Linked DNA regions of Homo sapiens. The protein of the gene in region 3 interacts with the protein of the main gene of each other region in a biochemical or structural test. Each region holds a gene or a part of one and is shown on either strand. Other genes may lie near its edges. The genes, in order: DNASE1, TMSB4X, ACTA1 and GSN.

Evidence for each region.
Region 1: the proteins of ACTA1 (region 3) and DNASE1 are reported together in a solved structure, tested with the Homo sapiens proteins (one study listed by BioGRID).
Region 2: the proteins of ACTA1 (region 3) and TMSB4X form a complex in vitro, tested with the Homo sapiens proteins (2 studies listed by BioGRID).
Region 4: the proteins of ACTA1 (region 3) and GSN are reported together in a solved structure, tested with the Homo sapiens proteins (3 studies listed by BioGRID and IntAct).

Annotation. Positions count from the first base shown.
Region 1 is NC_000016.10:3,649,572-3,657,744, reverse strand, and holds the start of DNASE1 (deoxyribonuclease-1 isoform 1 precursor), read right to left. Parts: upstream 3,055-8,173; 5' UTR 2,992-3,054; coding exon of another isoform or gene 2,950-2,991; 5' UTR 2,785-2,949; coding exon of another isoform or gene 2,701-2,784; exon of another isoform or gene 2,373-2,700; coding exon of another isoform or gene 2,372-2,372; coding exon 2,225-2,371; exon of another isoform or gene 1,897-2,224; coding exon 1,808-1,896; exon of another isoform or gene 1,644-1,807; coding exon 1,560-1,643; exon of another isoform or gene 1,108-1,559; coding exon 992-1,107; exon of another isoform or gene 816-991; coding exon of another isoform or gene 747-815; coding exon 634-746; exon of another isoform or gene 559-633; coding exon 404-558; exon of another isoform or gene 223-403; intron 49-222; exon of another isoform or gene 26-48; coding exon 1-25. UniProt on the Homo sapiens protein: Serum endocuclease secreted into body fluids by a wide variety of exocrine and endocrine organs. Expressed by non-hematopoietic tissues and preferentially cleaves protein-free DNA. Among other functions, seems to be involved in cell death by apoptosis.
Region 2 is NC_000023.11:12,970,243-12,977,762, reverse strand, and holds TMSB4X (thymosin beta-4), read right to left. Parts: upstream 2,654-7,520; 5' UTR 2,595-2,653; intron 1,518-2,594; 5' UTR 1,502-1,517; coding exon 1,402-1,501; intron 987-1,401; coding exon 952-986; 3' UTR 540-951; downstream 1-539.
Region 3 is NC_000001.11:229,431,048-229,438,254, reverse strand, and holds ACTA1 (actin, alpha skeletal muscle), read left to right. Parts: upstream 1-4,160; 5' UTR 4,161-4,251; intron 4,252-5,127; 5' UTR 5,128-5,139; coding exon 5,140-5,268; intron 5,269-5,374; coding exon 5,375-5,699; intron 5,700-5,823; coding exon 5,824-5,985; intron 5,986-6,069; coding exon 6,070-6,261; intron 6,262-6,352; coding exon 6,353-6,534; intron 6,535-6,612; coding exon 6,613-6,756; 3' UTR 6,757-7,010; downstream 7,011-7,207. UniProt on the Homo sapiens protein: Actins are highly conserved proteins that are involved in various types of cell motility and are ubiquitously expressed in all eukaryotic cells.
Region 4 is NC_000009.12:121,263,644-121,271,190, reverse strand, and holds the start of GSN (gelsolin), read right to left. Parts: upstream 3,030-7,547; 5' UTR 2,972-3,029; intron 1,267-2,971; exon of another isoform or gene 1,135-1,266; intron 1-1,134. UniProt on the Homo sapiens protein: Calcium-regulated, actin-modulating protein that binds to the plus (or barbed) ends of actin monomers or filaments, preventing monomer exchange (end-blocking or capping).

The DNA.
Region 1 (8,173 bases), on a different chromosome or scaffold from region 3:
GAGCAGCATCCCTGCAACCACGATCCTGATGGGTGTTGGGAAGAGAAAGTAGGTTCCCCTTTCACACATGGGCCTGGCTCAGCACCCGCAGGAACTAAACTAAGAGCCCTGGGACCTGCCAGTGCAGGTCTGTGGGTGCCCAAAACTGCACACCCTGGTCTGTGCCCCTCAATGTGGAAACCACATGACAGCCTAGGTGTCTGCCTCTCCTCTTATCCCCAGATGTGCTTTTCCGAAAAAACCTAAAAATCGTGGCTCTTGTTATTCTGTTCCCTGTAGTGGATCAACTGAAGCTCAGTTGGGTGAGTGTTCAAAGGCTTTGAGGCTTCTGAAGCCCGACCTATGAGTCACGGCTGCCCTTGGAGGTGCCCTCAGTCTGCCCTAAGCGCGAGGCCCTGCTCACCTGTCATAGGCACAGTGCGTGGGTGTAGCTGTGGTGTCAGCGCTGTCGGGGATCAGCCACTGGAAGGTGGGGCTTGTCCACAGGCGGATGGATGACCACTGGGAGGGTCTCACATAGCTGCAGCCCGCATTGAAGTCGCCCATCAACATGACGTCCTACCAGGAAACGCTGCCTGTGGCCCTGGGACATGCGGAGGCCGCTGGTGCCCACTGCCCCTGGGAGGGCCTCACCTCCAAGCCCCATTTCTCTTGGACATCCAGGTAGACGTCATAGAGAGCGTCGATCTCGGCTACTGCGTCCCCCGGGGCCGCATGCAGGGGAACAATGGCAAACTCCCTGACCTCTGTGGAGACAGCCACGTCGTGTGAGGCACACTCCCTGGGGGCAGGTTCAGTCACCATGTCAGCTGGAACTATGTATCATGACAGTCCCCCCGGGGGGTGGATATTTTCCAAATGACTTGAATGGAAAACCCAAGCCCCAGGGACTGGGAGGGCAGTGTGTGACACAGGCATTCCAGGTTCCCTAGGAGGGGGTGGAGGCCATAAGCGCCAAGCCGAGCCCCACCCTGGCCCAGGCAGCACCCACCTGTGAACCGGGAGAAGAACCTGACAATGGCTGGCTCTCGGTTGAAGGTGTCGTTCCCGCAGGGCTCGCAGCCATCATCGTAGTAGTAGCTGTCCACCGCAGACACCTGGTCAGGCCTGCGGGAAGGCCGGGCAGGAGGAGGTGACCCCAGGCTGGAAGCTGCCCCACTCCTGCTTCCCAGGAGGCAGGCGTCGCGTCCCAGGCGACAGGAGGGCGGGGGAGCCAGGCACCTGCTCAACCCATTGGTCCGGGACCCAGGCGACAGGAGGGCGGGGGAGCCAGGCACCTGCTCAACCCATTGGTCCGGGACCCAGGCGACAGGAGGGCGGGGGAGCCAGGCACCTGCTCAACCCATTGGTCCGGGACCCAGGCGACAGGAGGGCGGGGGAGCCAGGCACCTGCTCAACCCATTGGTCCGGGACCTTGGGGTGTTTTCACTCCACCCTGGACCCTGCTCTGAAGCCTCAGGTTCTTGCCATAGGACAAACTAATAGGACAAACTACTTCCCTGCTCTGTTGGGGCCCTCCCAGGTGAGGGAGGGGCTTCCTGGCTTTCTAGACCACCCACCTGTACACGAACAGGTAGCGCTCCTTATAGCTGTTCCGTCCCAGTGGCTCACTGACCACGTAGTGATAGGTGTCTGGTGCATCCCTGGATTGAAGAAACAAAAGGTCCCAGTGGCGGGGGCCATAGGGGACCCCTCTGGCTGCCGATAGCGAGGCTGTGCCCAGGTCCCCACCCTTGGGGCCCAAGTGAAGTGAGGCTGTGCCGTGGACGAGATGTCACCTTCCTATGACCCTGCCACTGTCACCCACTGATTGAGGTTGTCCAGCAGCTTCCCCACGGCAGTCAGGTGGCTGTCTCTGACCTCCTGGACCAGGGCGATGTCATAGCGGCTCAGGATCTGGGGGCAGGGCCACAGTGGTGCTGAGCAGGGCTGGTGCCACCCAGGGACCCTACAGCGCCACAAAGGGAGCCACAGCTGATGCTCGTGGCATTGCTCGGTTTAACCGCAGCCTCATGTTTCTGCCTGGGCTCCTGCTGCCAGCCAGGGACAGCACAGCAGGGATGAGGACCTTGGTCCACAGCCAAGAGCCTGTTCCACCGTGCTGGGAGCAGTGGTGCTCAGTACCCCACACCCGACACCCTGTGGCTCCATAGGGCTGGCCCTGCCCACCAGCCCTAGACTCCAGAGCTCCTCTGCTTTTGGGGGGAGGCTGCCCTGGCCTCACCTGCACAATGTAGCTGACGAGGGTGGCATTGGACATCTTGGTCTCCCCAAATGTCTGGATGTTGAAGGCTGCGATCTTCAGGGACACGGCCCCCTGCAGTAGGGCCGCCAGTGCCAGCAGCGCCCCCAGCAGCTTCATGCCCCTCATCCTGGGAGAGCACAGGGCACAGAGACATAACAGAAGTGAGACGTCATCCCTGCCACAGCACTCCAGCCTTCTGGAGCCCAGCTGGCAGGGGCTGGTGGAGCTCAAGGTCAGGGGGACGCAGGCGGGGGAAACCCTTTCCTACAACGTCCAGAAAGCCAAACAGCTGGCACCACGTAGAGGACCCCGAGTCACTCCTCCATCCACCAGAAAACCCGCCCGGGAGGGACGCTGGAGCCTCCGCCTCACTCGCTGCTGGAGGATGAGACTCTAAGCCTCCCTCCCTGCTCCAAACCGGCCAGTCACCCAGAGGCACTCCACCTGGTGCTCACCTGAGATGATGGTGATGTCCTCAGAGATGACGAGAATGCTGTCAAGAATCTGGAATATCCTTTGATGACAATTTTCTCCTTTTGCTGCTTAAAGAAAAAAAAGTAGTCTATGAAGAAAGGTCTCTGAAGAAGCACTTCAAGGCCCTGGCAGTGCTGCTGGGCTCCGGATCCTGCACAGGCAGTGCGTGTCTGGGAGTTTTAAAAGTTCAGGCAGCTGTGACCTTCCCTGGGGCAAATGTGAGCCGTCACCTGAGAGTGCAGAAAACAATGGCTCTGTGTGGCTTTCCGCATAGGTGGGTTGCTAGCACGTGTTTCTTTCTGTAAGCACAGGTTTCTTGCTGCTGTAAAAACTGCACCTGATAATCACGTTTGCACTTAGTTTTAAAATGTCTGATAACAAGGCCAAAGGTTCCTATCCCGTGTCCCTTGCACGTGTGGTGGCCCCCATCTTCCAGGATAGGGCAGGGATGGGCCAGGTATGTGCGGGAGGGTGGGGCTGGGCTCCAGTCTCCCTGTCTCTTGTCTGGGGGCCCCAAGGTCACTTTGGACAAAGAGGCCAAAGCCACATCCAAAGTTGCAAATGGAGCCCCCTGGTGGCTGACAGCCATGACTGCTCTGTGGCCCAGGACACGCCTGCCTTCCTGATTCATCGCCATCAGGTGCAGGCAACTCTGCAGGAGGCTGGGGAGCTCGGAACAAGCAGTGGTGGGGGCCTGCAGCACCAGCGCCGTGGGGCCAGGACAGGTGGGGCCTGCAAAGCCCACCCCAATTGCCAGCCAAGCAGTGGGGAGCCTTCTTGAGGTAGACAATAGGCTGTGTGTTTAGGCCCAGGGGATCCCGAGTGACCAGGTCACAAGGGCAGGGCAGCAGCTAAAGGCCAGGCCTCAGGTCCAGTAATTTCTTGGTTCTTTTGTTTTGGGTTTTTATTGTTTTTGAGACAGGGTCTCACACTGTGTTGCCAAGGCTGGAGTGCAGTGGCACAATCATGGCTCATTATAGCCTCAACCGCCAGGGCTCAGATAATCCTCCCTCCTCAGCCTCCTGAGTAGCTAAGACTATGGGTACGGCACCATGCCTGGCTAATTTTTAAATTTTTTTGGTAGAGATGGGGTCTTGCTCTTTTGTCCAGACTGGTCTTGAACTCCTGGCTTCAGGCAATCCTCCGGCGTAGCCAGGACCACAGGTGCATGCTACCATGCTCAGTTTTTTTTTTTTTTTTTTTTTTTTTTTTTTTTTTTGAGGCGGAATCTTGCTCTGCTGCCCAGCCTGGAGTGCAGTAATACTATCTCGGCTCACTGCAACCTCTGCTTCCTGGGTTCAAGCAATTCTTCTGCCTCAGCCTCCCGAGTAGCTGGGATTACAGGCACGCACCACCACACCCGGCTAATTTTTGTATTTTTAGTAGAGACAGGGTTTCACCATGTTGGTCACACTGGTCTCAAACTCGTGACCTTGTGATCCGCCTGCCTCGGCCTCCCAAAGTGCTGGGATTACAGGCGTGAGCCATCGCACCCAGCCTATTTTTTAAGTTTCTCACAGACACAAGGTCTCCAAGTCCTGAGCCCAAGCAATCTTCCCGCAAATGCTGGGATTACAAGTGTGAGCCACCGCACCCCGCCACTCATTTCTTGGAATCTTTGACTTTCCATTCGTATTCATTTCCTGAGACTGGTGAAACTACCACAAGTTTGGTTGCTTAAAATAACAGAAATGGATCCTCTCAAAATTCCGGAGACTGGACGTCTGAAGTCAGGGAGTCAGTAGGACCTTGCGCCTCCTGGAGGCTCCGGGCGGTTGGGGGATGCTCCTTGCCCTCCAGTTTCTGCAGGCTGCCAGCAATCCTTGGCTTTCCTTAGTTGTGGCTGCATCACCCCAGTCTCTGCCTCTTCTTCTTAAGATCTGTGCACCTGCATTTGGGGTCCTCCCAGAGAGCAGGGAGGATGTCCTTATCTCAACAGCCTTTACTCACATCTGCAAGTCCTTTTTTGCTACAAAAATCAACATTCAGAGGTTCCAGGGCTAGGGCACAGCTATCTTTTGAGCCACCCCTGGGTCTTGCCCACTTGGAAGGGGCTGTGCTGGCCCTCCAAGGACAGCCCTGCACGTAGCATCTGTGGTCCCCCTGGGGGAGGAGGGCCTGGAAGGCTTGGCAGAAGTCCAGGCGGGATTCAGGTATGAGAACTGCAGGAAATGAATACAAATGGGGTCTGCAGGAGGCCTCAACGGCAAGAGTCAGCAGGGGCCAAGGTCGAAAGTCAGGAAAGTGCTCGGTCTGGCCAGCTGGCCATGAAGCAGAAGGCAGGCCCAGTGGGGACTAGAAACAGGAAGGTAAACCACCCTCCACAAGACTGGCACCCCATTCCATAAAGACACGCCAACAGACGCCTCTGGCTGGCAGCACTGGTGCACTCATCTGTCCCTCCTATTGAGACGGCGTCTACCAGATGGAAACACCACCACTCCTCAGGCTGCCAGAGGCCCCATTGCAGGCTTTTCCAAAGGTTTCAGCAATGGTTCTTCCCTGTTTTTAATCTCTAAGTCTAGGACAGCCTCCAGCACGTCAAAACCCAGCCCCCAAGCAAGGCCACCGGAGTATTCGGTGTAGGGACTAGTCCTCTGCCTTTGGTGTTTGCCTTTCCTGGACACACATCTGACAGCGACCCATCACGGGGAAGGGAGTAAAGCTAGAGGGCGGCCACTGTCCTCCACCAAGAAACTGCCTGGTGCAGCTTCCGGCGGGGCACAGGGACACCAATTATAGCTCACAGAGCAAGTGCCCAACCCCCTACGTGTGCTCAGCACGTGGGACGAGGGTTCCCCTCTGGTCTGTCATCCCCTCCTGGCTCTTGACCAAATGCTGCCCCATCTGCTTTCAGGAACTCCCAGGCATAGTGCCCCTGCTTCCTCTACCTGCCAGAAGGAAGGCTGGAACTTGGGCCTCGCTTGTACAAATGGCGAGTGCTGCCTGCTGTGTGGCTGCCCTCAGGACGGGCTTTGGTGAGGGCAGCACAGCCCTGGAGGAGCCTGGTCTGACATGGGGCCCGTCTGGGATCACTGTTGGGCCTTCAACCGTCTGGAGCCTCTATGTCTTCCTCTGATAGATTCCCAGAACAATCATTTCACCTTCTAAGAAGCCATCCTGCCCCTGCAGCCTGTGGCTTGTGGAGTCTCCAGCACTCTCACTTCTCCCTCGTGGATCTCTTTTCTGTCTGTGTCAGTCAATGCTGCCATGTAACAGCCACCTGCAAACTCAGTGTATACACATGCATTTCTCTCACACTGCCAGGTCTGCTGGGGTGGCTCTGCTGCCTGGGCCTCGTCCTGGGGCTGGGCTGGAGAGACTGCAGCTCCCTGGGCACCCTCTTCCCACAGTGTGGAAGGTGGAGGCTCCCAGGGCACAAGCAGAACACGTGCCGCCCTAAGGCCAAGGCGGAGCTGGCTGCTGTCGCTTCTGCCCACATTCCATGGGTGCTGTCGAGCTGTAGGTCCAAGCCCCACATCAGGGGAGTGAGTGGGGTACAATCCTCCCATGCTGGGCCCCACTCTGGAGATAGGCCTGGGGAATGCCCAAGAAGGAAGCCCAGCCCTTCTGGGATTTTCACATCCACAGAGAATGGGTGCTGGCAGCCAACGGCAACGAGGAGAAAAGCTGACCGCCTTCTCAGATCAGGATGAGGTGTTTTTACACCAACCCCGAGGATCTGCAGCCTTCTCAGGTTAAATTAAACCTGTCACAGACACAGGAAGGGAAAAGAGCACATAACAACAATTATATTGACATCTAAGCCAGGTCACATGCTCTGATTTGGCTGAAATTACAGGATAAAGGAAAAATCCTATAGGCACCATGGCTGGAAACAAATGGCCTCAAAGGAACGCTGGTGGCCGTGGCTTTGTGCAACGACAGCCAGTGTTGTGTGACCCAGCGACGTGCAGGCCAGGGAGGGTACCCTTCTACTGATCAAGAGGGAAAGCGGGAAGGACGCACAGCTGTGGTTTCCAACCTGCACGGAGGCACCCCCATGAACTCACAGAGCACCATCAGATCCTTCTGAATTTTGAAGGAAGCAATGATACTCTGCTCTGCTCAAGGCCATTCATGGTCTCAACATTAACGTTACCTTGCTTTATAGGGTATCTTCCCTCTCTCTGCCAGGCTGGGTTGTGGCAGTCACTGAACAAGCAATTACTGTGAAGGTCGACGTGGAAAAATGAGGCAATGAGGGTGGCGGTGTTCTACCAGATTCCAAGTTGAAGAGGTGCTCGACAGGCACACACATCCCATGACTAAACAAATAACATGAACATTTCTCTTTATGTATTACTTTTCTAGACATCCACTATAAGTTGCCAGGACACAAATGCTTATTATTGGGGTTTACTTATTTAATAAATGGAACTGTGGGGGATTTCTTTTTCTTTTCTTTTTTTTTTTTTTTTTGAATGACCATATAATCTGGACTTACTAACTTTAGGTAACAGTAAGTTAAAAGATAGAATAAGGTTTCATATTACAGGAATTCAAAAATTGACCATATAATAAATGATGAAGAAAACTAACAATAAACAGGACAATGTTCAAATAGCTCATTGGGGCCAAAAGATCAGCGTATATCCTGCATCATCTTTCATGCAATGTCTCAGCTTTTTTTCCCTCAAACATAAAGGCAGATTAATACAAATTAGCCTTATTTAGAATATTCATTTACGTTTCCTTCTGAAATTGATACTTGAGTGGAAGATGTATTAATAACTCGTGGTTTCTACTGAAATTTAAGATTCCACCAGATGATGCTCAGATTTAGACGATGCTAGAGTAAGACACTACTGGGTGATGATTTCAAAGTATGAGCTGCAGGTAAAATCTAAAAGGACATACATAATAACAAATGTTTTCTAATTTAAAAGACATATAGTAAATATCCATGAATTAACTCACACAACCTACTTACAAACAAAACTAGAATAAACAAAACTTGTAGGAACCAACTCCAGTTGATTTCGCCACTTAGCGGGAGCAAGTTCTCAGGCGGGTCATTTTATTTAAGGATGACTTGAAATTTTACAAGACCACCTTAGCTCCCACATACGAAAACTCTTTAAGAATTTTTTTTTTATCAACTAGAAGTTGGGGAAAACACACCGAGAAATAAAATGATACAGCTCCTCACACATTTGAAGGCCCATGTCATGCCTAAATTTCTACCGATTTAACTTAAGAAGCTCCTCGCCCTGAGAGATTCCTTTATCCCACAACACTTGACTCAGATGGGGCAGAGGGTCCCAGGACACTACCCAGGCCACAAGATAAAAACACAACCTGTCTCCTCCGGCACCACTATCAGGGATTTCTTTTGGCTTACTATTAAAATAATTATTGAACCTTAATCAAGAGTGCTCTCAACTGAGAAAGTGTGAAGCTTCTGATCTGACATAATGCATATGCCTGAGTTAGATTTCCTACTTTACTGAA
Region 2 (7,520 bases), on a different chromosome or scaffold from region 3:
AAGAGGACCCAATAAATTTAAAATCATGTTCACTAATCTTAACTGTATTCATTAAAGCAATTGTAAATATTGAACTCTGATTAGAAACCGGCCATTAGAAAATGAGTAAGCTCAAGTCCTAAATTCCTTCTTAACGCAGCTGCTAAAAATGTAATTTTTACTCATCTATGTTAATGCTAGCACTTGGTTAAATAACCAAGTTCAATTTGATACCCTGAAATAAGATACTGTGCTGTAAATTATCACCTTCATTTTCTTGAGCACGTGCAATGTCAGCTTATCAAAACCCGTAAGAACTGCAAAGATATTTTTATTAAAGCTCTCACACAATTCATACTAGGAATTCAATCAGCCTGAGAAAATGATCTCCTAGTATAGACAAGGTATTTTGCATACCTGGGTGAAACCCATTTCTATGCCATAAGGGAATTTATCCAGTCACCAGATGCTTGTCCCTCCCCAATGGACCAAGAGGTAGGCCTCTTTGCAAAGGTTTCATCCGCGATCCTTCCAGAAACCAAACAGACACACCAGCTAAGTTTTTAAACTTTTTATTTGCATATTAAAAAAATTGTGCATTCCAATAATTAAAATCATTTGAACAAAAAAAAAAATGGCACTCTGATTAAACTGCATTACAGCCTGCAGGACACCTTGGGCCAGCTTGGTTTTACTCTAGATTTCACTGTCGTCCCACCCCACTTCTTCCACCCCACTTCTTCCTTCACCAACATGCAAGTTCTTTCCTTCCCTGCCAGCCAGATAGATAGACAGATGGGAAAGGCAGGCGCGGCCTTCGTTGTCAGTAGTTCTTTGATGTGAAAGGGGCAGCACAGTCATTTAAACTTGATCCAACCTCTTTGCATCTTACAAAGTTAAACAGCTAAAAGAAGTAAAATAAGAAGGCAATGCTTGTGGAATGTACAGTGCATATTGGCGGCGCACGCCTCATTACGATTCGCCTGCTTGCTTCTCCTGTTCAATCGCTGTGACCAGAAAAAAAAAAAAAAAAAAGATGGAGGGAGATGATTAAAGGATTCAGTACAGACTAAAGGGCTTTCATTTAAAGCATCTTTTCAAATCATAAACATTCTACACGGTATTCCACAATGGAATAAAATATGTATATTGAATATACTAAATAGAAATACATTTTAATGGATAAATGTTTGTATATTAATATGGCATATTAAATATTCCATTACTAAATTACTAAAGCCCCGTGTTTGTTGGCTGCAAAACCATTTTTAATTAACCTTTGCAAGCCACATTCATCAACTGTCGGCTCTTCCCCCGCACTCCCCCCTCCCGAATTCTTCCCGCGGCCGCTCCCAGCCTCCCGCCCTCCCACCGGCCGCTCCCACCCAGCCTTTCTAAAGATGGGGGTGGGTCGGAGCTCACTTTCTTTGGAAGGCAGTGGATTTTTCTCTTGCGTCTCTGTCTTCTTCAGTTTCGACTTATCGAATTTCTCGATCTCAGCCATATCGGGTTTGTCAGACATGGTTGCGGAGGAAAAGCTGCAGGGAGCAAGCCAAGAGCGAGCGTGAGGAAGAGCCACCCGCCCCGCTGTCTCTGGGCTGGGAACTGCACTTCTGCCCTCCGACCCGCAGCCTGAAAAAAACCCTTCTCGCTCTCCTACTGCTGCCGTTCCGCGCTCACGAGCTTCCTCTTTCTACAGAAAAAGAGGCGACACCCCCCGCGCCCCTCCTCCCCATATTTCAAAACGCTGTGGACCAAAGAGGGCGGATGCCTCTCAAAGCCGAATCTTGCAGAATAAAGGAAATTGACCACTGCGAATTGTTAATTACAGCGTTTAAAATTAAAGGCTGGCTAGGACAAGGAAAGAAGAGGAAAGCCACTTCCAAATTCAAGTGGGAAAAATCGGCAAGAATTCCTAAAATGGAGCCCAGGTAGGAAAAGCGTTTCCATTTCCTAGCCGCGGCCTCTCCGCAAGGATGCGGGCCGGATCCGGCTTTCTAGTCCTCTCACAAAGGCGGCGGCCGCGGCTGGAGCTTCCGACCACCGCCCTACCGGCTTCATCGCCCGCGTCACAATGCAGCCCCGCACACAAAGCGGCCGCCGCGCGCCCCGAAGCCGGTCTTGCCTGCTCTCCCGGCAATTCGGCATCCCTGGCACACATGTCTCTGCAAGAAGGACTGTAAAGATGTCATAGCACAGCCCCGCCGCCGCCAGGCTGCACAGATGCAGCCCGCGCAGCCGTCCGAGGCTGGGAGGAGGCTCGGGGCTCGGAAGATGAACCTCAGAACAAAGGACTTGTCTATTCCCCCATATCTCAGCCTCCAAGGCAACGCACAATACCTTTGCGGGCAAACACTAAGAAATTTTTTAATGTCCCCTCCGAGCGGCACGGCAAAACGCCAGTTTTTCGGTTTTGTTCTTAAATCATCGATTTCCCCACCCCATTATCCAGTATCTAGGGTGTTTCGCATCCCCCCAGCTCCCCAAAGTAGCCTTCCCGGGGAGAACCACTCGGGCTCGGATTTAGGGAATGCCTTCACAGGGACGCGGATGATGAAAGGGCGGGGACGGAGGCAGGACGGCAGGAGGAAGGAGGCAGGGGCCCTGGGGCTCACCGAAGCGAGGCGCACGAGTACGAGCGAAGTCTGGTCTGCGCAGTGGCCACCACCGAGTTGTCGGGCGGGGTGCGGCGGGCGCAGCTTTATGGGCGCTCCTATGTAAATGAGGTGATGTCACCCGCCGGCCCGCTTAACTCCTTCGCGCCGCGTCTCGGAACGGCATCCGGAGGCCTGCCGGGCTTTTGGGGAGGGGAGCCCCACCCCCACCCGGGGTCCACTAGTGCATGCACCCTAACCACAACGATGGCGAAAAAAATGAGCAAAGCACCCTCCAACACTTCATAACACATTTTCCCCTTTTACGTTTATTTCATTACGATGAATTTTTGCAACAGCAGCGCAGAAATTGCTCTTGGGGACCAGTGCATAATAACTAAGGGTCGGGGTGGCACCTGGGGTGACAGGCATTCTTTTATTTCGAAACTGCCTTTGTCTACTGTGGACATCTCCACACAAGGGCGCGGTGTCCCTCCCTGGAGGGCCTGGCCCGCTGCAGGGGTACGATTCCTGTGACTCAGCTTTCAGTCCAGTGGCGGGCATGCGCCCCACCCCGGGCCTCTTTGTCTTCCTCGCTGGCGTTCCTCTTGCCTTGGGTGGGACGTAAAGCACCCTTAAGTGATTTTAAAAGAGAAAGTTTCATCACTGAAACATCCATATTGTTTCATCAGCATAATTTTTGTGAGCACTCAACAGTAGTATTTGCTGGGTGTAAGGTAATTTGGAGTTTATAGGGTAAAACACCTCCCTCTTAGCAAAATAAGTCAAGCTCAAGCTCTGCCATTGACTTTACTGCCGGACAATGAGGAAGTTCTTTACCTTCCTCTTCCTTATTTTCATAAATTTTAAAAGTGATGGCTAAGGAGGCCAGCGTTGAATTCCAAAGACTACAGTTACATTATCTCTAATGTCTTAAGATGAAATTCAAAAATCAAATTATATTTTCAAGGGAGCGTTTCCAGCACTAGGACATCGCTGAAGTGCATCTGCATCTGGAAATATAAGAGATTCGGGTAGAGGGAAGCAGTTTTCAAAATGGCACCTGACTCTGTGAATACCAGTGACCCACTTGCTACTGAAAATTAGTTACAAATACCATGCCACGCGCCTGCAAATGGCGTGTGAAAGGAAAAAGACTCGCCGGTTATAAAGAGGCCTAGCTGTGATTATTTCTAAGAGACAAGGCAGTGTGCAAAATATTCCTTCTCCTTTTCCGTGGCCTGGGGAAATGTTTTTAGAAACCCCTTGCTAATCATTTTTATGGCACAGGCTTTTGTCTCGCTGGGGATTAGAGTCAACCTTATATATAGACCCTTGAATGCCACTGCCAGCAGCTTGGACTTCCCCGTTTCTCCATCTACTTGACTTCCTTTTTCCTGGGGAGGAAGGAGGTGGGGGTGAGCAGGGGCAGGTGACCGTCTGGTCCCCTAGTTAATGCTCTGCTGGGTGGCTGCCTTCCTGGCCTCCGAATGGGGCACTGGACCTGTTCGTGCATGCACCAAATGTCACCTGTCTGGTAACAGCCCCCCCGCCCCTGTTCCATGTTGGGAGTCTACTTCATCGTTGAAACACAGAAAAGATCTTGCAGGGTGCCTTTTCGCCCGTTTAGCTGGCAGCTGCCGTTGTACCGACACCGTTTCCGCAGGTTCTGTGATTCTGTTTCCCCTCACCCAGCTGCTGTCGAAAATCATTTCTTTCCTCCCAATGTCTCCTGATGACAAAGGAGTGCCACTACCTTCTCCTGGCTTCTTCTCCCAAGGGCCTTTCCTCAGAAAGGGTTAGGCCTCACTGAAGCAATTCTCCAAAGGAGATGGACGAATGCAAACTTGGAAATGTCTGGAGAAGTTTTCCAGTGCGGTAGCAAGCAGCCTTCCACTGTGCTGAGACACTGATGGAGGGCAGGTGGAAACAGAGAGGAAGAGAAAGAGAGACGACTGCTTAAAGGAAAAGAGTTCCCATGATTGGGACTGACCTGCCAACCGGTCAGGAGACCTAGAGAGACAGGAAAGGGAAGGGTGGTGCAGATACAAGGAAATGCAAACCAAAGGAATATTCTTAAAAGTTGCATGACTCTGGCCATGTGAATGAATCTTTCTGTGCTGGAGTTTTCTCATCTGTAAAATGGGTTCATTGCAACACCGACCTCACAGGGTTGTTGGGAGGAGTAAATGCTTCGGACAGTGCATGACAATTAGTAAGCTCTTTCTATTGTTATTATTCGTATGATTTAGGATGGAAGGTTGAGGAAAAATAATAAAATAATTGTCTTAGTGTTTAGAATTAATTAAAAATTTTAGGTGTCTTGATATTATTTCTCCTATAGAGACATTTATATATTATTATATATTATTTCTATATAATTAATACATATGAATATATATTATTATTTTCACTTACAAAATGTTGATAGAAGATCTTTTGGTAGTTTTACAGCAAATAAAACATGACAACTCCTGTCGGTTGATATTTTCTAAGAGTCAGGCATTGTAACGTAAGTTTTACATTTGTTTTTTCCTTTCTTTCCCACCGCCTTTCCATAAGAAATTTCCAGATGGGGAAACTGAGGCTTAGAGAGCCATCATTGGGTTACCTCAGCTGGTAGCCACTCTGTTATATATGCCAAGAGCATGTAAAAGTCCTCCCCACATCCTCTTAGTCTGTACCCGAGAATCACCAGGAAGAGTGTGAGGAGCTAGGCAGTTGTGCTTTCCACAGCGTCTGGTGGATAGTAATTGCTCAATAACAGTTCTCCCACTGCATTGAATTGATTTTCTTTTCTTTTCTTTTTTTGAGACAGTCTCGCTCTGTCACCCAGGCTGGAGTGCAGTGATGTGATCTCGGCTCACTGCAACCTCCACCTCCCGGATTCAAGCCATTCTCTGCCTCAGCCTTCCATGAATTGATTTTCTTAAATGAGGGAGGTACTTGAACTCAGGTGTTGAACCTGTGACTCTAATTGTCTTGCTTTCTTCTCCCCAGATAATTAAATCCATTTAGTCTTAATGTTCTAGATGTCAGAATGTTCCAGGATCATCCCTGCCCCAGGCAGCTACATTTATAAGTCTGTTAGTATGTGCCGGGCACAACTACCATTGAGGTAGCAGTTTTCGATCCCAATTAAAAAGACAGAGGCACACAGGGGCAAAGGAACTGCTTACAATGGGTGCAGACATTGTTCCCAGTGAGACCCCCCCCCAAAAAAAAAGGCCTTGGGTGACTCCGGGTTGTATGGTGCACTCTGGCCTTGGGGCTCTCTGGTGAAAGATAAGTAGAGTCCACTTTGCGCCTGTCCTGCCTTCCTCATCTCACGGGCCACAGCGCCCAATGAAAAATGTGCCAACATTGCCTGCGTTGAAGGGCGGTTCCCCTCCAACCCTGTGTCTGGTGGAACCCGGAAAAGGTGGCAGGGGACGCAGTTTTATTTTGCTTTCCAGGGCGGGCCTGGGATAGAGTCGTGGCTATTTCTAACCATGGAGAAGTTGGCTAGAAGTCTGAATTCATGAAAATGAGTTCTATTAGTTTGAACCTATTTAATTTTGTGCCAAAAACTTACCAGAAGAAGAGAAGAAGGAAGAGGAGGGAGGAACGGAAGAACAGGAACAAAGCTGAGCTCCCAGCTCTTGCTTTCTCAAGCCCAGATCCCTTTGTCTGAGTTTCAGGGCCTCCTACCATCTGCCCCACCTGCCTGCACCCCACGTTCCCCTGTGGCCCCTGCAGTCTCCATCTGGTCTCCCTCACAGCAGAGCCCTCCTTCCACTGATTGGAATCTAAAACCCCTTAAAGACACAGCCTAAGTCCCCCCTGTGAATAACAGGAAAATGAAAAGAGAAAGGATATTTAGTAGACTAGCTATATCTTGTAACCTCAGCTATAAGCCCTTTTAAACAATATCTGATTCCATTCTTACCCTATGGAGTGAGTACTAATATCCCCATTTTACTACTAAAGAAATTGAGGCTCCGAGAATTTAAGCAATTTGCTCTTAATCAAATGCCCAGGTCTGTCTACCAAGTCTTTCCACCGAGGCCTATCTCTGCCTTATCTTTAGTTGAAGTATCTTTCTCCAGGACTCCCACCCAGAGCGGACCCACATGGTGCAAAGAGGAAGGCGAGCAGGGGGTGGCAGGAAAGCAAAGAGGAGTGAAAGAACACCCTCGCCTGTGCTCAGTGCTGAGTGCCGTGCTGCTAATTGTCCTGTTTGCTTTATTGATCCGATGGAAACTTTAGAGCCAAAAGAAATGTAAAAGGGGATCTCATTCAACCCAGTTTCCCTTCTGTGGCTTGAATTTTCCTCTACAACATCCCCTCCAAGTGGTTACTCAGCCTCCACACAGCCAGGGAACAATACGGAAGCAGAGAATCTTCGAGTTAACGCAGGGGGCAATGAGTAGCTTAGCTTGGCAGGCACTTGCGTAAAATGAGAGAAAGTGACAGGAAATAACGCTGGGAACCAGGCAGGGGCCAGGTTGTAGAATAATGATAGTAACAATCATGGCTGTACCCATAGCAGTAATAACAGCAAGTGCTTTCTGAGTGCTTTCCATATACTGGGAAGCTTTCCATGTAGTATTTCCCGAATCCTCACACAATCCTATGACAGTGGCACCATTATTCTCCTCATTTTGCAGATGAGAGAATTCTAGAGGGATTAAATAACTTCCCCAAGAAAACACAACGAAAGCCAAAGGCAGGATTTGAACTCAGACTGGCTGGCTCAGAAGCCGCCTCATTTAAACACTACTCTTCTCTAGAATCCTAAGGCCTTTTAAAGGCTTTGTTCCATACGCCAGATAAGGGTAAAGTTATATTCTGTCTCAATCAGCTGTCTAGCTTTTTCATCATGTAGATGTTTTTTCTCTTTTTTTCTTTTTTTTTTTTAAGAAACAGGTTCTCTCTATGTTGCCCAGGCTGGTCTCAAGTTCCTGG
Region 3 (7,207 bases):
CCCAAGCCCTTAGTCATTGGAAGCAAGACATGGCACCATGTGCTGAATGTTTCATATGTCTTAGGTACTCACCTAGTTTGTTGTTTTGTTTTTGGTTTTGGTTTTGGTTTTTTGAGACGGAGTCTTGCTCTGTTCCTAGGCTGGAGTGCAGTAGCGCAATCTCAGCTCACTGCAGCCTGTCTCTTGGGTTCAAGAGATTCTCCTGCCTCAGCCTCCCTAGTAGCTGGGATTACAGGCACCCGCCACCATGCCCAGCTAATTTTTTTGTATTTTTAGTAGAGACCAGGTTTCACCATGTTGGCCAGGCTGGTGTTGAACTCCTGACCTCAAGTGATCTGTCCACCTGGGCCTCCCAAAGTGCTGGGATTACAGACGTGAGCCACCGCACTCAGCTCTCACCTGGTTTTAATCCTCAGATCAGTCTTAAGGAGTATTGTGAGTTGAGAATGCTTTCTGGAAAGTCACTTGTCCAAGATCACATAGCCAGTCAGAGGGGAAGGTAAATGCAGCTCTGCTTGATTCCAGAATGCAAGCTCCTAACCAGTTCATGATATTCTGGGTATAAAGAATGTTGAAGAGAGGGCACTGCTCCAATGAATCATCAGGTTCTTAGAGGTGGCCATGAGTGCAAAAACCACCAGCTTCAGGAGGAGGAAAAAGTAGAAAATCCAAGCCCAAGCCCTTTCTTTGGGCTGCCAGGAGTTGACTCAACTTTTTTTTTTTTTTTTTTTTTGAGATGGAGTCTCTCTCTGTTGCCCAGGCCTGGCGTGCAGTGGTGGGATCTCGGCTCACTGCAACCTCTGCCTCCCAGGTTCAAGTGATTCTCCTGTCTCAGCCTCCCGAGTAGCTGGGATTATAGGTGTGCACCACCACGCCTGGCTAATTTTTGTGTTTTTAGTAGAGACGGGGTTTCACCATGTTGGCCAGGCTGGTCTTGAACTCCTGACCTCAAGTGATCCACCAGCCTCGGCTTCCCAAAGTGCTGGGATTACAGGCATGGGCCACCGCGCCTGGCCGACCCGACGTTTTTAAGTAGCTTGTGAGAATGAGTTGGTCTTTGTCTACCCTGTTCCTGGAATATCTCTAACTTGGAGTGCCCAGCCAGCCCCTCAAAGCTGAGTTTCTGGGGAAGCTACGGCTTTTCATGTCAGGATGTCTTTGGCTCATTACTGGGAAAGATCCCTCAAGGGCCTGTTCTGTTTCGAACTGTACCCAGTGTTGGTGAGGATTAGAGAGAAGCAGCAGTCCTTGCCCTCCCTGGCCACTGGCAGTAGAAGGAAGGACAGCCCAAGCCCGTCTCCTCCACTGGCTGCTGTGGAACCTGGGGTGTGTTTTAGCTCATTAAGCCTCAGTTTTCTTTAAAAAAGAAAAAAAACTGGAATGAGTAATACCTATCTTATTTACCTTAGGATAGTTAAACGGTTAATTGAAACACGAAAGCATATTATAAAGTGTTTTACCAATTCCTGTTTAAATTGATAGGAAACACAGTAGGAAGACTGGAACTGAGCAAGATTGGGGTACGGGTGTGTGGAGTGTTGAGGGGCACAATTGGAGAGAAGGGAAGTGTGAACACACCGGGGTAGTGGTAGCAGAAGGGCCCGGTCAGGGTATGAAGAGCTGAGGCTGCACCTGAAAACTTAGAAGCAGGAACTCCCTGTCAAGCATACCCTACATGGCTGACCTTTACTTAGTGACAGTTCTCAAAAGGCGGAGCAGGGCGCCGCTGCGCTCCCCCAAAACATACATGTATGGAGACGTGGCTCTGCCACCCACCATTCAGTCTATTCTCTAAGCCAATGAGAATGCAACAAGACCAGAATGGGACTGAGGGTGGCCTGTGGTGACCTGTCAGGGACTATTTAAACCAGCCGCAAATCATGTGGGCAGGGAACAGATGCCTGGCTGGCCACCTCAGGGGCCATCTCCCACAGTTTGCTGTACTAGCAGGTCTCTGTTCGCTTGTGAGTGTTTTTAATCATGGTCAGCTTTTAGTGTGGGTTTGAATGTAACAGACTGAGCTTAGAAAAGCTTTCTGTAAGGAAAGGTAAGAGTTGAACTGAGCAAGAGTTTTGAAAAATAGTGACAATCCCATTCTCCTTTGGAATGCGCACAAATATTGAGGTATCCAGTGAACGGCAGCAAATTTCCTACCTTCAAGGCCCAAATGTAAGCTAGTCCCCTTACGTTACATGCAGCTCATTTGCTAAGTGGTTTTTTTCTAGTATCTCCACTACTCGCTGACACAGGAGGACACAGGATGTTAAAAAGGAAATACAGTTCTGTCAATTATTCACTTACTCTCCAAAATACTTGGAAGAACTAAATATGGAACCATAGGAGACTTTATCCTCACCGCATAGTCCCTATACTAGTCAAACTCCTTATTTTTTAATTGATCATTTTTAGGAAGGTAGCATTTTATTCACTAGAACATTTTTGTTAATACTTGTTTATTTTTGGGATGAACTGCCATGATGTGGGCTACAGAGGAGGGTCGCATATGCTTCCATCCCCCTTTTAGAGAATCCACACCTGTCCCAGTTGCTGGGTTCCACTACCAAAAGTGAATTGCAACTATTTTAGGAGCACTTAAGCACATCCGAAAAATGAGTGATTCTGTTCTGGCCCACACCACATCACTGATGTACCCCCTTAAAGCATGTCCCTGAGTTCATCACAGAAGACTGCTCCTCCTGTGCCCTCCACAAGGTTAGAACTGTCCTTGTCTTAGGGAAAAAGGAGAGAGAGAGAGAGAGAGAGAGAGAGAGAGAGAGAGAGAGAGAGAGAGAGGGACAGGCACCAACTGGGTAACCTCTGCTGACCCCCACTCTACTTTACCATAAGTAGCTCCAAATCCTTCTAGAAAATCTGAAAGGCATAGCCCCATATATCAGTGATATAAATAGAACCTGCAGCAGGCTCTGGTAAATGATGACTACAAGGTGGACTGGGAGGCAGCCCGGCCTTGGCAGGCATCATCCTCTAAATATAAAGATGAGTTTGTTCAGCCTTTGCAGAAGGAAAAACTGCCACCCATCCTAGAGTGCCGCGTCCTTGTCCCCCCACCCCCTCCAATTTATTGGGAGGAAGGACCAGCTAAGCCTCATCTAGGAAGAGCCCCTCACCCATCTCCACCTCCACTCCAGGTCTAGCCAGTCCTGGGTTGTGACCCTTGTCTTTCAGCCCCAGGAGAGGGACACACATAGTGCCACCAAAGAGGCTGGGGGAGGGCCTCAGCCCACCAAAACCTGGGGCCAGTGCGTCCTACAGGAGGGGAACCCTCACCCCTTCAATCCCTTTAGGAGACCCAAGGGCGCTGCGCGTCCCTGAGGCGGACAGCTCCGTGTGCTCAGGCTTTGCGCCTGACAGGCCTATCCCCGGGAGCCCCCGCGCCTCCTCCCCGGCGCTCCGCCCTCGCCTCCCCCCGCCAGTTGTCTATCCTGCGACAGCTGCGCGCCCTCCGGCCGCCGGTGGCCCTCTGTGCGGTGGGGGAAGGGGTCGACGTGGCTCAGCTTTTTGGATTCAGGGAGCTCGGGGGTGGGAAGAGAGAAATGGAGTTCCAGGGGCGTAAAGGAGAGGGAGTTCGCCTTCCTTCCCTTCCTGAGACTCAGGAGTGACTGCTTCTCCAATCCTCCCAAGCCCACCACTCCACACGACTCCCTCTTCCCGGTAGTCGCAAGTGGGAGTTTGGGGATCTGAGCAAAGAACCCGAAGAGGAGTTGAAATATTGGAAGTCAGCAGTCAGGCACCTTCCCGAGCGCCCAGGGCGCTCAGAGTGGACATGGTTGGGGAGGCCTTTGGGACAGGTGCGGTTCCCGGAGCGCAGGCGCACACATGCACCCACCGGCGAACGCGGTGACCCTCGCCCCACCCCATCCCCTCCGGCGGGCAACTGGGTCGGGTCAGGAGGGGCAAACCCGCTAGGGAGACACTCCATATACGGCCCGGCCCGCGTTACCTGGGACCGGGCCAACCCGCTCCTTCTTTGGTCAACGCAGGGGACCCGGGCGGGGGCCCAGGCCGCGAACCGGCCGAGGGAGGGGGCTCTAGTGCCCAACACCCAAATATGGCTCGAGAAGGGCAGCGACATTCCTGCGGGGTGGCGCGGAGGGAATGCCCGCGGGCTATATAAAACCTGAGCAGAGGGACAAGCGGCCACCGCAGCGGACAGCGCCAAGTGAAGCCTCGCTTCCCCTCCGCGGCGACCAGGGCCCGAGCCGAGAGTAGCAGTTGTAGCTACCCGCCCAGGTAGGGCAGGAGTTGGGAGGGGACAGGGGGACAGGGCACTACCGAGGGGAACCTGAAGGACTCCGGGGCAGAACCCAGTCGGTTCACCTGGTCAGCCCCAGGCCTGCGCCCTGAGCGCTGTGCCTCGTCTCCGGAGCCACACGCGCTTTAAAAAGGAGGCAAGACAGTCAGCCTCTGGAAATTAGACTTCTCCAAATTTTTCTCTAGCCCCTTTGGGCTCCTTTACCTGGCATGTAGGATGTGCCTAGGGAGATAAACGGTTTTGCTTTAGTTGTCGCCAAGGCAGTTCCCTTCCAAACTAGCGCTAGAGCGAATGAGCGAGCAGCCAGGACCACCCATTCTGGGTTTCCAACAGGCGAAAAGGCCCTTTCTGAGTTTGAAATGTCACAGGGTTCCTAACAGGCCACTCTTCCCTGGATGGGGTGCCAACGCCTTTCCCATGGGCATCTCCTTCCACCCTCACGCTGGCCCAGCAAGCAGGCAGTGCTGAGGCCTTATCTCCCTAGGTGACAGATGTGGTCAGGGAGGCGCAGAGAGGATGGGCACTAGCGTCCAGCTCCTGGAACAGGTGTCAGGCAGGGAGGGCAGACAGGTCTTGGGGAACATGTTCCCCTGGCTATGTGGACAGAGGACTTCTCAGTGGGGTCTCGCGACCCTGTGCCCCTTTTCCTGGTTCAGGGCAGCCCTTAGCCGGGGCAAAGGTCGAGAAGAGAACCCCTGGTCGCCGCCCTGGCAGAATTTGAGTGGCTCCGGCAGGAGATGTCCCTAGGTTCCTGGGGAGGGAGGACGTCGGGGCCAGCCAGGCTTACCCCCCCCTGCCGCTGAGACTTCTGCGCTGATGCACCGCGCCTCTTCGCGGTCTCCCTGTCCTTGCAGAAACTAGACACAATGTGCGACGAAGACGAGACCACCGCCCTCGTGTGCGACAATGGCTCCGGCCTGGTGAAAGCCGGCTTCGCCGGGGATGACGCCCCTAGGGCCGTGTTCCCGTCCATCGTGGGCCGCCCCCGACACCAGGTCAGGCTGCCCCTCCGCAGAGGGAGCCGGCTCGGGGTCCCCGCGTAAGCCAGCCTGGTGCCACCCGGAGCGGCGTTAACGGGTGCGTGGTGTCTCGGCTCTGCAGGGCGTCATGGTCGGTATGGGTCAGAAAGATTCCTACGTGGGCGACGAGGCTCAGAGCAAGAGAGGTATCCTGACCCTGAAGTACCCTATCGAGCACGGCATCATCACCAACTGGGATGACATGGAGAAGATCTGGCACCACACCTTCTACAACGAGCTTCGCGTGGCTCCCGAGGAGCACCCCACCCTGCTCACCGAGGCCCCCCTCAATCCCAAGGCCAACCGCGAGAAGATGACCCAGATCATGTTTGAGACCTTCAACGTGCCCGCCATGTACGTGGCCATCCAGGCCGTGCTGTCCCTCTACGCCTCCGGCAGGACCACCGGTGAGTGCCCGCTGCCCCCAGTCCCCTCTCCCGCCCCCGCCCCCGCCCCCGCCCCCGCCGCTAGCGCTGAGAGCCTAGCCTCGGCCTCGCCCCCAGCCACTCACTCTCTCCCGCGCGCGCACAGGCATCGTGCTGGACTCCGGCGACGGCGTCACCCACAACGTGCCCATTTATGAGGGCTACGCGCTGCCGCACGCCATCATGCGCCTGGACCTGGCGGGCCGCGATCTCACCGACTACCTGATGAAGATCCTCACTGAGCGTGGCTACTCCTTCGTGACCACAGGTGCGCGGCGCCCCTGCACCCCGGGCGGGAGGGCCGGCGGCGGCCCCTGAGTGAGGGCTCCTCTCCTGCTTCTGCCCTCCGCAGCTGAGCGCGAGATCGTGCGCGACATCAAGGAGAAGCTGTGCTACGTGGCCCTGGACTTCGAGAACGAGATGGCGACGGCCGCCTCCTCCTCCTCCCTGGAAAAGAGCTACGAGCTGCCAGACGGGCAGGTCATCACCATCGGCAACGAGCGCTTCCGCTGCCCGGAGACGCTCTTCCAGCCCTCCTTCATCGGTGAGCCCCGCTCGCCCTCGCCCCGGCCCCCAGGCCCCGCCGGCCCCCGGCGCCCCGAGCTTCTGCTCACGCTCCCCGCCGCGGTCCCCAGGTATGGAGTCGGCGGGCATTCACGAGACCACCTACAACAGCATCATGAAGTGTGACATCGACATCAGGAAGGACCTGTATGCCAACAACGTCATGTCGGGGGGCACCACGATGTACCCTGGGATCGCTGACCGCATGCAGAAAGAGATCACCGCGCTGGCACCCAGCACCATGAAGATCAAGGTGGGTGGTGGCCTGCGCGGGCTGTCGGCGGGGTGGGCTCCAGGGTGAGGTCTCCCCACCTCACGCGCTGTCTTGCAGATCATCGCCCCGCCGGAGCGCAAATACTCGGTGTGGATCGGCGGCTCCATCCTGGCCTCGCTGTCCACCTTCCAGCAGATGTGGATCACCAAGCAGGAGTACGACGAGGCCGGCCCTTCCATCGTCCACCGCAAATGCTTCTAGACACACTCCACCTCCAGCACGCGACTTCTCAGGACGACGAATCTTCTCAATGGGGGGGCGGCTGAGCTCCAGCCACCCCGCAGTCACTTTCTTTGTAACAACTTCCGTTGCTGCCATCGTAAACTGACACAGTGTTTATAACGTGTACATACATTAACTTATTACCTCATTTTGTTATTTTTCGAAACAAAGCCCTGTGGAAGAAAATGGAAAACTTGAAGAAGCATTAAAGTCATTCTGTTAAGCTGCGTAAAGTGGTCGTGTTTATTTGCTTGGGGCGGGAGTGGAGCAGGAAGAGGGATTCCCATCCCCCACATCCTCTTAAGTCACTTTTCACGATACCCCAAATGAATGGGCTCCTTGGAAGACAAAACTTACATCTTCCCATGCTCCCCTGCCGGTTTCTGCAGTGGATCAGATCCATTCCAGATCACTGGCAGCTAGTGGTGGC
Region 4 (7,547 bases), on a different chromosome or scaffold from region 3:
CACCATGTTGACCAGGCTGGTCTCAAACTCCTGGCTTAAGCCATCAACCCAACTCGGCCTCCCAAAATGCTGGAACTGCAGGTGTGAGCCACCATGCCCAGTTAAAAGATAGCTTTTTATTATTATCATGCAAACCAACATCTCTCCATTTTACACATGAGGAACCAGAGGCTCAGAGAGATAGGATTTGCCCAAGGTCACCCAAAGAACCAAGACTGGGGGTCCATTTCCAAGTCAGTGCTTCTAACTTCTCTCACACCTGTGGTCTCTGATAAGCAAATATACACACCCAGAGGCCGCAGACACAGGATGTAAAAGTTTTCTTAAAGAAAACCAGAGCTCAGTGTCTCAGCAACGTACCATAGACCAAGCAGAAATCATCTCTATGACCCACATCACAAATGACCCAAACTATTCACATGGAGTAGGGGAAAGTGACCCACTGTCACTGGATGGCTAAAAGTGAAGGCATCCAATCAACGTGTTTGGCAGGAGTGCACACACCATTGTTAACAGTGGCGACCTCTGGGGAAAGAGGCGGGCTTGGAGGGATTCTTTAACAATTTTTGTTTGTTTTAAAACTCATGAAAAAGAAAAAAAAGTTACAATGCTGAATACCTTAGCAACCTTCTCCAGTAGGTCTAGCCTGTTGTCTGCTTTTAGATGAAATTTATAGCAGGTTCTGAGACCTTCAGCTGGGCTTCCAGAATCTGCTGCTCTGACCCATCCCAGTGGCCACTGCTCTAGTTCAGACCTGCAATCTACTTCACTTGAATCATGCAACAGCCTCCTCAGGGCCTTCCTGCCTCCAGATCAGCCTCGTTCAATGCATCCCCTACATCAGCCATTCAGAATAACGAGTTTTTAAAAATCACTGCTCTGTCAAAACCCTTTCTCAGCTCTTCATTGCCTTCAGGATGAGGTCCAAACCCTTAGCTTATAATCTAGTTCCATTTTCATTTAGATTCTCAACCTCCCACCACCCCGCCCTTCTCCCATCCTCCACTCTAGCCACATGGATGGCTCAGAAAATCTCAGTGCCTTTGCACTAGTGGTTCCTGCTTCCCAGAATGTCTTTTCCCCCAACTCCTGTTTCTCCTGGTAAATGATTATTCATTCTGAGGTCTGGCTCACCTAGACAAAATTAGTCACTCCTCTTGCAGGCTGAAGTCACTCTTAATATGGCACAAAAGTGTCAAACAGTATAGATGGCAAGCATCTTGAGGACAGAGAGCTCTGTCCTCTTCCAAGGCTCTTTGGCCCCTCGCAGGGCAAGGCACAGAACACAGGCCCAGAGAAGTGCTGAAAGGAGGGAGGCGGGGAGGAAGGAAATGCCATGCGGGGCAAACCCTGCAGCCACCCCTCCTGGGAGCAGCCTGTTTCCAGGCTCATGTTAGTCCCTAATAAAAGGACTGTGGAAAATTCTGGAGTAAACTTTCCTCCCCTGATTCACACAGAAACCTTCTTTGCTGCTGTGTAACTCACCGAGTGCCAACCCAAGCTCCCCTGGCTGTTTACAATTTCCCTGGCATTTATAAATAGCATGGCCCCAGAAAGAAAAATGGAGTTTCAAAGGAGCTGAAAGCCGACCGTTCCCACCCCCATCCTTCCTCCTCTGTTTCCAAGCCTCTCCCCCTTAACAGCCCCAAGAAACACCAACCAGCACCCCCAAGTGTGTATGTACAGGGAATGCTTGTCCCTTTAGTAAACGGAACACCCAAGAAGGAGGCTAGAGTCCCTCCCAGCAAGGAGTCCGCAAACGGCAGACCGGAATTGGGTCTCAGCCCTACCCTGCCTCACTGTGTGACAATTAGCCCATCATAAACTCTCTGGGTCCTTGACTTTTCTCAACTGTGAAATGGAGGAAATGGAGATGGGGTAAGATTCTAGCAAGCTATGGTCGCTGTAAACGGCAGAGCGGTGAGAGGTCCTGGTGCCCTGGTCAGAAATGTGGTCCTGGGAGAACAGGACACACAGGATTAAGTGTTTGAAAAGTCCCCAGATGCCAAACAAAAGCGAAAGGCACCTCCCCAGAGGCCCCGCCTTCCACAAAGTCCAATTACCCTCAGGACAGCCCAGAATGAGTTCTGGGTGTTTTAAAGCTCCCTTCCATGCTCTGAGGAGGGTGTGAAGACAGGATAAAGCGACAGATGTCTGGGCAGACAAGGAGCTAGGAAGAAAGCCAATGTCTCCTGCTCACCCACACCCCCAGCCCCCAGCCTTCCAAGGACTGGGGCTTCCCCCTGGGCACTGCCCAGACCAGCCAGCCTGCACTGGACCAGAGGGAAGTTGCTGTTATTTAGGTTCTGGGGGGCTGGACCCCAGAAGACATGGGGGCTCAGGGAGAAGGGGTTCCAATCACTGTCTTCAACTCCAGAAGAAGCTTCCGTGTGAGTCAGGGAAGGGAACACTGCAGGGCCGGGGAGAAGCCAGCACCTACAGGTAGCAGGCGCCTGAAGATTTCAGACAGTGTAAGGAAGAACTTTCTAACAGTCCCCAGAAAGAGGAAGCAGCTGGAGAGGAGAGCAGGCACAGGTATCGTCCAGGAGGCAAGGGTCCTCTGAGTGGACTCCCCAGCAGAGTCACCGCCCAGACCGTAGCTGGTGGTCCCCTGCATGCCCGGGTCAGACAACCCAAGTGCAGGGGTGACCCCGGGCCAGTTCCCCCATCCCGGGGGCGGGGTCGAGGTTATTAGCTCAGGTGCTAGCAGCACAGTGGAATCACGGGGTGGAGGCCTGGCCCCTCTCCTCTCCTGCTCCGGCGTCTCCCCATCCCCCAACTCCCATCCACACTCTTTGGTCCCTTGGAAGACGGGAAAAGTGAGCGAGGAAGCCCTTTTCCAGCGATGCCCCCGCGGCCGGGCCGAGCTCCAGGCGCGGGCGAGATAGGACCGGGAAGGAAGGGAGAGGAAGGACTCAAATCAGCCCGGGACCCCCAGATGCCCGGGGCCGGGGCCGCGCGCCTCCCCTACCTGCTGCTGCGGCACTGGAGACAGCGGCTGCTGGGTCCAGCTGCGCTCAGCTGGTTCCGGGCGGCGGGGCGGGGGCGTTGTGGTGCGCGCGGCCGGGGTGGGCAGGGCGCGGGCGGGAGCCGCCCTCGGGGCGGGGCGGCCGGGCAGGCGGGTGGGGGAGGAGCGCCAGGCCCTCCCGTCGGCTGCTGGGCGGGTGGCTCCAAGCTCGCCTTCGTCCAGGGGGACCCCTCGCTTCACCTCGCAGGAAGGCACCAAACCAAGCCCTCTGCTTTCCCCTGGAGGAAACTGAGGCCCGGAGCACGGAGGGGAGATCTGAAGAGGCCTAGGGTCGGGGAGGAGACCCAGGGCAGCTCCTGAGCTGGGCTGGGGCCAAAGAGCTCAGATGGGACGGGCAAGCGAGCAATGCTCAACTAGCACCAGCGGAGGCAGATTTCAGCCCTGGAGAGAACGGACTTCAGGAGGCAAAGCCCTCGAAGAGTGACATAGGCTGCATGCAAAGCAGGGGAGATTCCCTCCCACGGAAGGGAATAAGGAGGAAGAGCGATTCCCAGCTCATTCCGAATGAAGTAACGAAAATGCCAAGTGCATCCCTGGTCCTTAAAGTGGACCATTAAGCAGGCGCCTCGGAGTCAGAAGGCCTGGTTTGGAACCCCAGACATCGACTAGTCCTGTAACTTTGGGCAAGCGAGCTCACATGTCTAAGTCTCCGTTTCCTCGTTTGTCAAATGGGCATCCTGAATTGCCGCTTCATGGGGCGGTTGAGAAGACTCAGTGAGAAAAAGACTCTCAGCACAATGACAGGGACCGTGGCTTCTGCATAAACGGAAGGGATGTTCTTATTAGTGTCATGGCAGATACTGTTTTAGGAGATTGAGGAAATCCACATTGGGTAGAAAGATGAGTGCAAGGTCAATTTTAAGCAAATGTAATACTTTGTTGATTTCAACAACATCTCATATGCATTTGAGACGATAGCCGTTTATAATGCAGCAAGGCATAAGACGGCCTCCCAGCAGTCCTGGTGCACACATGAGTTCCCAGGACTTTTGGAGTTGCCGCGTGACTCCGGTTTGGAAGGATTCACACACTCCACAGGAGACTGCACCACATGACAGAGATGTCCATTCCCAGCCTGGGTGCTGGCAGCAGCCCCATGTTCAGCCAGGGTAAAGCTCCCTCTTAACACAAGGTAAAATGTACTAGAGTCAGTAATTGCCGGGTGCTGGGGATCAGAGCAGAAAAGGCTGTTGTTTAAGTAGCACAGAAGCCAAGAGCACAGTGCTCACTCCCTGGTTTTTCCATTGAATAGCAGCCAGGGAAGCCACAGGACCCAGGGAATCTCACCCTGGCTCTTCCTCCTGCCATTCTCTCTTTGTTCAACACCAGTAAATACAAGAACCATTTCTTGAATGCCTCATGCCATGCTCTGGGCTTCCCACGTATTACCGACTTTAATTCTCACCTCCCTACCTGGCCTCCTAAGGGAGGCATTACCATGTGTATTTTTCAGATGAGCAGGCCAAGCCCACAGAAAGGGTTAAGTACTCTCTGGAGGTCACACTACTGATACTGTGCAGTCTACTCTTCTATGCCTGAGTCCTTGGCCCTCGCTTCTTTGCTCAATGTCTTATGTCACACTCTGCCACCTTTCCTGGCTTGGGAAATTCTGCCCAGTTCCACTTTCTCTGAGAATACAAGCAAGGTATCCACCCCGCAGGGAGGCTCACACCATCTCTGCTACTCTCTGCTTTCTCCAGAGGCTGCCTGGGGCCCAATGCAAGGCTGCTGGGGAGAAAAGCAAAAACACAGGCTTATTTGGCTCTGGAATCTTTGATTACAAGCCCCGGCATACACATGCCTTGGAATTATCTAACATATCATTTCCAGCCCCAGCAACTGCTCTCAGACAAAGGGAGGTGGAACTCTGAATCTGTGTCCCCATAGAACTGGAGAATACCACATCACGATGGAGGAAACATTGGAGAATGTCTGCTCCAACTCCTCCCTTTAGAGATGGAGAAACTGAGGCCAGGAGAGCAAAAGGGTTCACATTCTAAGCTAGATCTAAGGTTCCATATTCTAAGCTGGGTCAGATGCCTACCCATAACCCTGTAATTGCTCCATTTGGTGGCTGGAGAGGAACATGGGAACAGGGTATCACCAGGAATCATTAGAAATGATAATGAAGATAATGATGATGATGATTGATTGATGATGATTGTGATGATGATAACCAATACTTACATGGGAGTGCTCCTCTAGGAACACTTCTAGAAATCTCCTGGTGCTTTGCTTTATGACTCAACATGTGTATTTTATAGCTGGCAGGATATATCAAGTCTGCCTTTCATGGATGCCTAGAAGTCTTCTTGGTATCCTGTCTTCATTCCTTTCTAGATACCTCTTTGTACTTCTCCCCCCATTGGATCTAGGTAAGGTAAGGCCTGTTTGTCCTGGATCCTCACCTCAGAGTGAATGTCTTGCTGATAAGGATCTCCTCTGATGGAAGAACTTTGATATCTTCTTTTGCCAGAAGACCACCTCCTTCCCAGAGTGAGGCTGGGGAGAAATGAAGGCCACACACAGGCCAGGCATTAGACAATCTGGGGGTACCTGCTCTCTCCTCTGAGAACGCCTCTTCCCACCCAAGGGGATGGCCCTCACTTGCACCCAGGTTTGTACTGTAACCTTCCCCCACAACACAGTTGACAGCATGAGGAGTGGACGGCAGAAAAAAGCTGGACTATTAGAATTTGGAGCTGGAAGTTGAGACATGACAATCATGGTTAATTAACTGGGTCTGTGAGGACCAATGATCTCTGAAGGCCAAGGCTGCCATTTTGAGGTGGCCATCTTCCATCGTATTCACAGAGAAAGCCAATGAGGCTCGTTAAATGACTAGAAGGGTGTCGCAAAACTCACAGAGGAGATGCCTGGGCTGGGCAGCCCAGGAGGCTTCAGGGTTCAGGGGCTCTTCTGATTACAGACCTCTCCTGGAGCTGGCTTCAGAAAGAGAAGTTATCAGCACAAGTATTTGTTGAGCATCGAATGCCTTGTAGTTTGTCCCTAGAAGCAGAGGATGAGACAGGGATTTCATACAAGGGATTACTTGAGAGAGCACTCTCAGGAGATCCTGAAATATCCCATGGAACACTAGGGCAGGGGTGCAGCTGGGCCTCAGGATCAGACCACAAGCAGGACCTGAGTACTAAAGGGAACCCAGAAAGTACTCTCTCCCCCATCTTTCATCTCTGCCTGTCTGCTCACATCACACAAGCATTTCTGCTTTCCAGAAAATGGCTTTTACCAGCAGCAAGCTGGAATCTTTGTTTGTAGTCCACATTCTAAGTTGGATCAGATGCCTACCCTTTATCTAATTAACTCTGGCCCGAGTGACAGGGTCCTACTGCACAAACCTGGCTGCTCCCACTGTAACCTGTGGGTGGAGGGGGTGCACTTCCCAGAGAAAAGGGGAGGGGAAGCCAAGCAGAGACAACGGCTTGGATTCAGTCAGCCTTGAAAGGATGGAAAGAATAAGAGTGGAGGTGAGGAAGGGAACAGCATCTTCTGCTAAGAGCACAGAATAAGCAAAGGTGTGGAGGTCAGAGAAAGACAGAGCTGGAAGAAGGAAAGGAGACTGTTATTTTCTCCAGCCTCGGTCCCCTTTAGTGTTGTGCTAGTGTTGTGTTCTTAAGAACTGATTTAGTGTGTTTAGTGTTGTTTTCTTACGAACTGATTGCTCAATTTCCATGAATTTTTGTGGATTTTTTTGAGACAAGATTTCACTGTCACCCAGGCTGGAGTCAGTGGCACAAACATGGCTTCCTGCAGCCTTGACCTCTGGGCTCAAGCAATCCTCCTGCCTTAGCCTCCCAAGTAGGTGGGACCACAGGTACATCCCACCAGGCCTGGCTAATTTTTATGTTATTTGTAGAGATGAAGTCTCTCTATGTTACCAGACTGGTCTTAAACTTTTGGGCTCAAGAGATCCTCCCACCTCAGCCTTTGAAAGTGCTGGGATTATAGGAGTAAGCCATCACACCTGGCCAAATTTCCATGCATTCTTACACCCAGCTGTATTAAGGCTGTATTAAGCACAGCCTTCAATAACAATCTATATAAACTTATAATTAAGTAAATTATAAATTGATATGGTCTGGCTCTGTGTTCCCACCCAAATCTCATCTCGAATTGTAATCCCCATAATCCCCATGTGTCAAGGAAGGAATCTGGTGGAAGGGAGGTGATTGGATCATGGGGGCAGTTTCCCCCATGCCGTTCTCATGATGGTGAGTTCTCATGAGACCTGATTTTTTTTTTTTTTTTTTTTTGAGATGGAGTTTCCCTCTCGTTCCTAGGCTGGAGTGCAATGGCGCAATCTCGGTTCACCGCAACCTCCACCTCCCAGGTTCAAGCGATTCTGCTGCTTCAGCCTCCTAGTAGCTGGGATTACAGGCACCCGCAACAACGCCCGGCTAATTTTGTATTTTTAGTAGAGACGGGGTTTCTCCATATTGGTCAGGCTGGTCTCGAACTCCCGACCTCAGGTGATCCACCTGCCTCAGCCTACCAAAGT